3 separate regions of the Homo sapiens genome follow, and all the other regions are linked to region 2. Evidence: fine-mapped QTL for protein levels in blood plasma. A gene starts in region 2. Each other region holds a variant in brackets. All regions are shown on one strand. Distances are from middle to middle.

Region 1 (2,762 bases), 25 kb before region 2:
CTCAGGTCCTTGAGAAAGATTTCTTTTCTTTTTTCTCTCTTTTTTTTTTTTTAGACAGAGTCTTGCTCTGTCACCCAGGCTGGAGTGCAGTGGTGCGATCTCGGCTCACTGCAACCTCATCCACCTCCCAGGTTCAAGCAATTCTCCTGCCCCAGCCTCGCAAGTAGCTGAGATTACAGGCACCTGCCACCACACCTGGCTAATTTTTGTATTTTTAATAGAGATGGGGGGGGGGGTTTCACCATGTTGGCCAGGCTGGTCTCAAACTCCCGACCTCAAGGGATCCACCCACCTTGGCCTCCCAAAGTGCTGGGATTACGGATGTGAGCCACCATACCCAGCCTGAGAAAGAGTTCTGCGTTGTAGGAGAAATAGACTTCTCAAAGGGGCAGAGGAAGGAGTCACAGGTGTAAGCCCTTTTTAGCAAAAGCTCTAAGAAGGGGCAGCTGGGTGCTGGCCAGGACACACAGCAAATTCACCTGCAGTGCCGAGCTCTCAGGCAAGCATTTAGGGGGCTGGGGCCACCCCAGGGATGCGCCTCCTGCTGTTGGATGCCATGAGAGCTTGGCGATCTCCTGTCTCCTGGTGCAGGGGCTTGGGTGGAGCCGATCCATGCTGAGAGCTCTGCCGTGCTCAGTACATACGCACTGACACACTCAGCACATACGCACTGACACACTCAGCTTGGGTCCACATCGGAGCGCGGTTCTCCTGGTGTAAAGCCCCTAGAATCCATCCCGACACAACTGCCTCGGGGTAAGATGTCTGAGAAAGGGAAGTCTCATCTCCTCACGCAAAGGAGGAGGGGATGATTCTGCCCAGGCAGGTTCAGGGGGATTGGGGAGGGGAGGAGGGGGTGATTCTGCCCCGGCAGGTTCAGGGGGATTGGGGAGGGGATCAAGATTCTCACTTCCATCTGAGATCACATAAATGTCCCAGTTCTGTGTGTCATGGTCCCACTCCTTAAGCAGTGACCCAACTTTCACATAAAACACTTGGCGACTTTTGAATCCAACTCACCATGCAACCCACACTATTAAATGTGGAGTCTGATTTTCAGCCATTTCTGCTCTGTGGCTGCAAGAATGAAATATTATTCTATGGTCAGGATGGAATGTCTCCAGTGTCTTGCCTGTTACTCAAGCTCAGACCTTGGCATTTCCTTTCTGAAAGCCCCAGATCAGTCAGGCAGCCCCCGC[C/T]CCCTTCTCCTTGCAGTCATGATTACCACGTTTGTGGCCAAGCACAGCAGCCAGTTGGCTTCCCAAAGCCTTGGTTCCAGTGGGTGCCACGTCCCAATGAGCAACCACAGCAAACAATTTAGGGAATTGTGGTGTCACTTCATGCCGTGCCCATGAGTATCCCATTTTCCATCGACGAGATGCCCTCCCTGCATCTGTGCACACCCAAGAAATCTGCACACGCGCCTGTAGACATGAGAAAGCCCTGTGGTTGACAAGGGTGGGAAGAACGACTCCAAAGTTCCACTGAGTGAGGGGGAGAAGTCAAATAATTCCAAGTGCTTTCCCTCCTTGAGCTGCAGGAGAAAACCGTGAAGAAATGCATCCTCTGGTTGTGAGGCTGGGACTGGGAACAGATATTCACGCTCCCCTTCAGCCGACGGTGCATGGGGTCTTAGAACGCTTTCATTTGTTGGTCAAAAAACCCACAACCACAACCGAGCATGCAGGTTTTGCTGAGAGAACTTCAGATGCTTCATTCCAGCTCTTCTTTTCAGTATGTTTCACGGGGCTAAAACGAAGGTTGGCAGGGCTGGTTCCTTCTGGAGGCTCTTGGGGAGGAATCTGTCCCTGCCATTTCCAGCTTCCAGAGGCCTCCACATGCCTTGGCTTGTGGCCCCTCCTCCACCTTCAAAGCCAGCAGCACAGCCTCTTCTACTTCTGTTCATAAATATTCTCTCTCCCCACCCTTCTCTCTCTCCCTCCCTCGCTCCCCAGCCTCTCTCCTATAAGGGCCCCTGTGATAACAGTGGGCCCACCCAGATAATCCAGGCTAATTGCTCATCTCAGATCCTTCCTGAATTATATCTGCAAAGTCCCTTTTACCATACACACATCCATAGGGCCAGGGATGAGGATGTGGACATCTTTAGGGGACCATTATTCTGTCTACCACATACACACATCCACAGGGCCAGGGATGAGGATGTGGACATCTTCAGGGGACCATTATTCAGTCTACCACATACACACATCCACAGGGCCAGGGCTGAGGATGTGGACATCTTCAGGGAACCATTATTCAGTCTGCCCATGGGGGGAATTGGCAATCAATAGGACTGCAAGGAAATGAACAGGGTGTCTCCGGGGAGTGATGTGTCGTAATGGAGCGCAGCTCAGGGAAGTGACAGGGAGAGTAGGGGCTGCATCTTCCATTGTGTAGCCTGGAGAGGCTTCTCTGGGGAGGTGGTTTTTAAAATTTTTATTTGATATATATTTCACATGCCATCATACTCACTCTTTAAAAGTGCCCAATTCAGTGGGTTTCAGTAAATTCACAAGGCTGTGAAACCATCACCACTATCTAATCCAGGAGATCTTCATCATCTTACAAAGGTCCCCACGCCCGTCCGCTCTCACCCCCATTCTTCCCTCTGCACCCCAGAACCTCTCATCTACTTCCCGTCTGCATGAACTTGCCTGTTCTGCACACTTCATAGAAATGGAATCATACATATGTGTTTCTTGTGACTGGTTTCTTTCCCTTAGCATAATGTTTCAAGGTTTGCCCACGTGGTAGCATGT
Region 2 (2,762 bases):
TTTAGAAAAAAAAATTTCTCTATATATCTACATATGGTGGGGTGTGGTGGCTCACACCTATAATTCCAGCACTTTGGGAGGCCGAGGTGAGCAGATCACTTGAGGTCAGCAGTTCGAGACCAGCTTGGCCAAAATAGTGAAAACCCCTCTCTACTAAAAATACAAACATTAGCCAGGTGTGGTGGTGGGCGCCTATAATCCCAGCTACTCTGGAGGCTGAAGCAGCAGGATTACTTGAACCTGGGATGCAGAGGTTGCAGTGAGTCAAGATCGTACCACTGCACTCCACCCTGGGCAACAGAGCAAGACTTGGCCTCAAAAAAATGTATATATGTATATATGTGTGTGTGTGTGTCACACACATGTCTATAGCTACCTACAAAATATCTTGCTGAGAATTTGATAGGAATTGCATTAAATCTCTAGGTTGAGTTGAGGAGAGCTAACACCTTTGCTGTGTTGAAGCTTCCAGCCCATGAACACATTGTGCCTGTCCTTTACCTTAGGTCTTTGATTTCCCTTCCTTGGGTTCAGAGTTTAAGTCCTGTCCATATTTGGTGAGATTTTTGCCTACATGCTGTGTGTGTGATTACAAATCCTGAATTTCCAGTTTCGGGTTCTGTCTACTCCTTGACACTGTGTGGGAACACGGTGGATTTTTGTGCGATTGACCTTGCTGACCTCACTCGGTTCTAGGAGGGGTTTTGTAGAGTTCTTGCAATTTTGTACCTGGGCAATGATGTTATATGCGAATAGAGACAGGTATACCTCCCCCTTCCCAATCTGCCTGCCTTTAGTTACCATTTCTTGCCTAGCTGCTCTGGCCGGAATGACCTGCTCTGATGGATGGGGGAGTGGGAGTGGACACCCGTGTCTTGCCTCAGGACTCAAGTGCTCTCCAGGGAGTGAGATGCGGGCTCGATTGTAAGTTACAAAGTGATGCTTCCCTGTGGGAAAAAGTACATCCAATATAGACTGTAGGACAAAGTCTGAAAGTCCACTGCCTCCCATTTCCACCCAGTCTTGCCTGTGAGTCAGAGAGAAACAGTGCTAACAGGCAGTGTGCACCTGTCCAGAGGCTGGCTGTTTGAGGGACACAGGTGTGCACACCTGGGGATGTCTGAGTGGAAGGTACAGGTCAGGATTATGACCGTGCAGTCAGTCACCCACTGGCATGATGTCTGTGGCATCCTGGGGCAGCCATGGGGCTCTCAGGCCCTCTGCCTGCCCCACAGGCCATACCCCTGCCCTGGACACAGCTGTCCTCAGTGCTGGCCTCTGACCCAACATTGTCCAGGAGCCCCAACCCAGAAGGTGCTCCCGCCGCTGCCAGCCTGGACCCGACCCAGGCCCCTCCCGCCTGAGGCCCTGCCAAGAACTGCCCAGCCCGGACACAGAGGAGGTTCCCGCGTGGACGCAGGGAAGAGCCTCCCATTGCCCCAGTGGAGGAAGCTGCCCAGGGGCCAAGGATGAGTCACAGGTTCGAGGAATCACATGGCGAGGCTGTGGGCGGGGATCTTGTCTGCCCTCCTCCTACATAAGGCCCCCTGAGCCCACACTGCCTCAGCATCCCTCTGGCTCCAGAGCTCAGAGCCACCCACAGCCGCAGCCATGCTGTGCCTCCTGCTCACCCTGGGCGTGGCCCTGGTCTGTGGTGTCCCGGCCATGGACATCCCCCAGACCAAGCAGGACCTGGAGCTCCCAAAGGTTTGAGGCTGGGGGAGCGGGCACTTTACTGTGGGAGGCCTGGGGCGGGTGGGAGCTGCGGGCAGGCAGGAAGCCCAGGATCTCAGAAACCTACAGGAAGCACAGAATGGACGCCATGACGTCAGGAAGCCCTCAGCCCTGCTCTCCATCTTTAGGGTGGCCTCTCTGGTTTCCCAGCATCCTAGGTGACTCATTATTTGGACTTTGGAACACTCCTGAGTTAGCACACACTGGTCATTTTAAGTACAGGAAATTTCATAGCCCAGGATCTGGTAGATAGCAGACAACCATCCAATGCTCACTGTACCCATCCCAGTTAGACTCAGCCCCGTCTGCACCGGGTGCAACGAGAGCCATGGTGGGGTGGGACCGCCGTGCAGCCCAAGGCCCCCTCAGTTGGCAGGGACCTGGCACTCCATGGCCATGGCGACCAACAACATCTCCCTCATGGCGACACTGAAGGCCCCTCTGAGGGTCCACATCACCTCACTGTTGCCCACCCCCGAGGACAACCTGGAGATCGTTCTGCACAGATGGTGGGTTTCTCATCATTGAGACGGGCTGGGCGGGGGCTCAGTCTCCCCCCTCAGGGGTCCAGGACTGGGTGGGTTGGGCGGAGCTGGACTTAGCCCCAGGCATTTTCTGACAGCCAGGGGCTTCACTGTGGCCCTTCCATGAGGGTGGGGTGGAAAACCAGGGCTCCAGACGTTCCCTGTCCCCTTGGATCCCCTGCCCCAGGCTCTGGGCCAACAGCCAACCACACAGTGCAGCCCCAGGTCAGACTGAGGAGAAGGTCTGGGCGGCTGCGGGCTGCGGTGCTCCTTGGACCCGGGGAAGTTCCCGTGGTGACCTGATTTTAGGAGTGACAGTGAAGGCAACTCCAATTCAAGTGGCCACTCATCCTATTGTCACCACCTTTCAGGGAGAACAACAGCTGTGTTGAGAAGAAGGTCCTTGGAGAGAAGACTGAGAATCCAAAGAAGTTCAAGATCAACTGTGAGTGTCCCCAGGCCCCAAGGGCTGGCTCAGTGCTGGCATGCTAGCCACGCTCTCCC
Region 3 (2,762 bases), 19 kb after region 2:
CATACACACACCCATTTATCCACCCAACCAACCATCCATCCATCCATTCACCCATGCAATCATTCACCCATCCTCCCACCTATTCATCCATCAATCTATCCACCATTCATTCACCCACCACCCACCAATCCATCCATTCATCCATTTATTCCATTATTTATTCATTCATCCATTTATGGATATATACATGCATTTATCATCTATCCTCCATTCATTCATCTACCATTCATTCCCCCTTCACCACCATCAATTCATCCACCATCCATCCACCATTTATCTTCCACCCATCCATCTAGCCATTTGGCCACCTCTTCATCTATTCACACCCCCATTCACCCACGATTTATTCATCCACTCCATCATCCATCTTTCACCCATTCCCCAACCAGTATTCATTCATCTACCATCCATGCATACATCCACCCATCCACCATCTATCCACCCATTCATCCATTAATTTATCTATCAACCCACATATGCATCCATCATTCATCCTTCCATTCAACCATACACCATCCATTTATTCACCATAATCCAACCATAATCAGTCCATTCATCTATCCAGCCATACATACCCCTCTTACCATCATGAGTCCACTTGTCATCCATTCACACCCAATTCACCACCCACTGTCTATCTTCCACCCATCCATCCATCTATCCACACCTTCATCCATCTATCATTCATTGACTTACATCCCCCATCTTCCATCCATCCATTCTTCCATCCATTATTTACCTATTCATCCAGCCATTCATCCACCTCTCTGCTTCCCCATTCATCTATCCATAATCCATCCACCGCTCATTCATTCATCCATAAATCCGTCCATCATCCACTATTTATCCATCCTTCTATTCATCTATCCACCCACAATCATCCACCCACTATCCATCTACCCTCATCCCCAATCTCTCACCCATCCACCCTTCCATTATCCCCCATTCACTATCCATCCACCATCCACCCTTCCATTATCCCCCATTCACTATCTATTCATCCACCATCCACCCTTTCATTATCCATTGTCCATCCATTTATTTACCAACAAATATTCATGGCATGGTGATCAGGTAGTGCACCATTCTAGACTCTGTGGATACAGCAGCAAAATGCACACATACAGCAGTCCCTACCTTCCTGTAGGTCACTGTGCCCCGAAGCAAACCACTGAA[G/A]CCCAGCTGTGTCTGGTTACAGGTGCAACTATCCACATGAGCTTCTCCATCTGGACCCACTGTTAGTGTTTTATTCTTGTGAATGGTTTTAGCATTTAGCTAATAGTTTCCTGCAAATAGCCTCTCAGAACGAAGTTCCCTCTTGCACCTGTGAAAGGTCCCCAGCTAGCATTGCTAATGAGACAGCTGGAAGCTTCAAGACCATGTGTAGAATTTCACTGTGTGAGAACCAAACCAGAAAATAACAGGCCCAAAGAACCCCAGAGACTTAACTAAAACATAGAGGAAGCATTTTCCTGCAACCCTCGCCTTCATAAACCCTCTTATGAGAGCGATATTTTTGTCCTGAAAGTGAGAATACAGAGGTTCAGGAAGGTGGTGTTCTGTGTTCAAGGTCACACAGAAAGCAGCCAATGTGACCACGATCAGACACAGGTGTGCTCACTTTACCTTGAGACTGCGCTCCCTGCAGACAAGGGAGGGGCGGTGGACACCTGTGAAGCGGGGAAACGGAGGAACAGCGTTTTCTGGGAAGAGTGAGTGTCACAGCCAGAGGGCTCACACTGGGTGTCAGGTGACTTTTTCCCTCCCTCGCTTTACATCAAGGCCCCAGCCCAAATCCTAGGGGCACAAGATTCTCAACAGCCTTGTCTGCACCCAGGTATTAAATGTATGTTTCTTGGAGATGCCCAGAGACCAAGTGTCCCCAAGCATCCAGCTGAGCTTGCCAGCCCTTGCACCCCAGCCTTTGGCCCTAAGGAGGTCCACGCAGCTCAGCACTGTCAACCATGGGGCACTGCTCTGATGCACTGGGGCTAGAGGCAGAGATGACACACCCAGGGCCTTCTTCAGAGTCCGGGGAGTCCAGGGAGAAACATGAACGCTGCATTGGATTTTGCAACTTTGCTGGCAACTCATTCGCTTTCATCCACAAACACCTTGGAGCCTCCCCTGTGGCCAGCAGTGGGCTGGAGACTGGAAAGCTGGCAAAAGCTGCCCTGCCATTTCCACCATGCCTCAGGACAGGGGCAGATGGATGCCTCCAGGAGCCTGAGTGCTGATGCAGGTGCACCCCAAAGGGACCTGGCCCTGCCCGATCCAGGGAAGACTCCTTGGAGGAGGCGCGCTTGGAGCCGCGTGCTGAGTGAGGAGTAGGAGTGTGGAGAGGCAGCCAGGCCCCTTTGCCTGAACAGGGATCCAGGTGTCCCTCGAAGACACAGAGGCTGCCCCTGGTGTGGGTTAGAGTTAGGGATGGATGCCTAAAAAGTACAAGAAGAAAGAGGAACAAGTCCAGGATGTTTGAGCCACCTATCAGATATCTTACCGTGTGTGGCACTGTGGGCCCGTGGCTGTTGCGAGGCCATGGGGGAAAGTTGGAGACATAGAGAAGGAACAAGAAGCAGAAACACAAATGCTCTGGTGGGTGATTCTCACCGGAGCGGGGACCCTACTGTGACCTGCGCATGTGAGGGATCTGGGTTGCAAGCTCCTGATGAGAATCTAATGCCTGATGATCTGTCGCTGTCTCCCATACCCCCTAGATGGGACAGTCCAGTTGCAGGAAAATGAGCTCAGGGCTCCCACCG

Alleles and levels. Positions count from the first base shown, and alleles are read on the strand shown. Strength reflects both the effect of a copy and how common the allele is. Not every link is listed here.
In carriers of allele C in region 1, the plasma level of the protein whose gene starts at base 1,566 in region 2 tends to be lower than with T alone (moderate association).

The links. PIP is the chance, under the fine-mapping model, that this variant and not a neighbour inherited with it causes the effect. Protein levels are from antibody-based Olink assays in UK Biobank. Linkage for the fine-mapping came from a reference panel and not from the study's own genotypes, which makes the PIPs less certain.
Region 1: its variant is fine-mapped to the plasma level of the PAEP protein (UK Biobank, PIP above 0.99).
Region 3: its variant is fine-mapped to the plasma level of the PAEP protein (UK Biobank, PIP above 0.99).

Annotation. Positions count from the first base shown.
Region 1 is chr9:135,535,183-135,537,944 of GRCh38, forward strand. No RefSeq gene overlaps it. Among named protein-coding and RNA genes, the nearest start is that of OBP2A, 9.6 kb to the right of the region's middle. The variant C/T (reference allele first, on the strand shown) is at 1,200.
Region 2 is chr9:135,560,191-135,562,952 of GRCh38, forward strand. It overlaps PAEP (progestagen associated endometrial protein), which reads left to right and starts at 1,566. Exons shown (of 7, transcript NM_002571.4): 1 at 1,566-1,707; 2 at 2,104-2,243; 3 at 2,630-2,703. The coding sequence starts at 1,612.
Region 3 is chr9:135,578,906-135,581,667 of GRCh38, forward strand. All of the region lies in intron 2 of LINC01502 (long intergenic non-protein coding RNA 1502), which reads left to right. The region is part of intron 1 of LOC105376316 (a long non-coding RNA gene); the gene reads right to left. Among named protein-coding and RNA genes, the nearest start is that of LINC01502, 5.4 kb to the left of the region's middle. The variant G/A (reference allele first, on the strand shown) is at 1,177.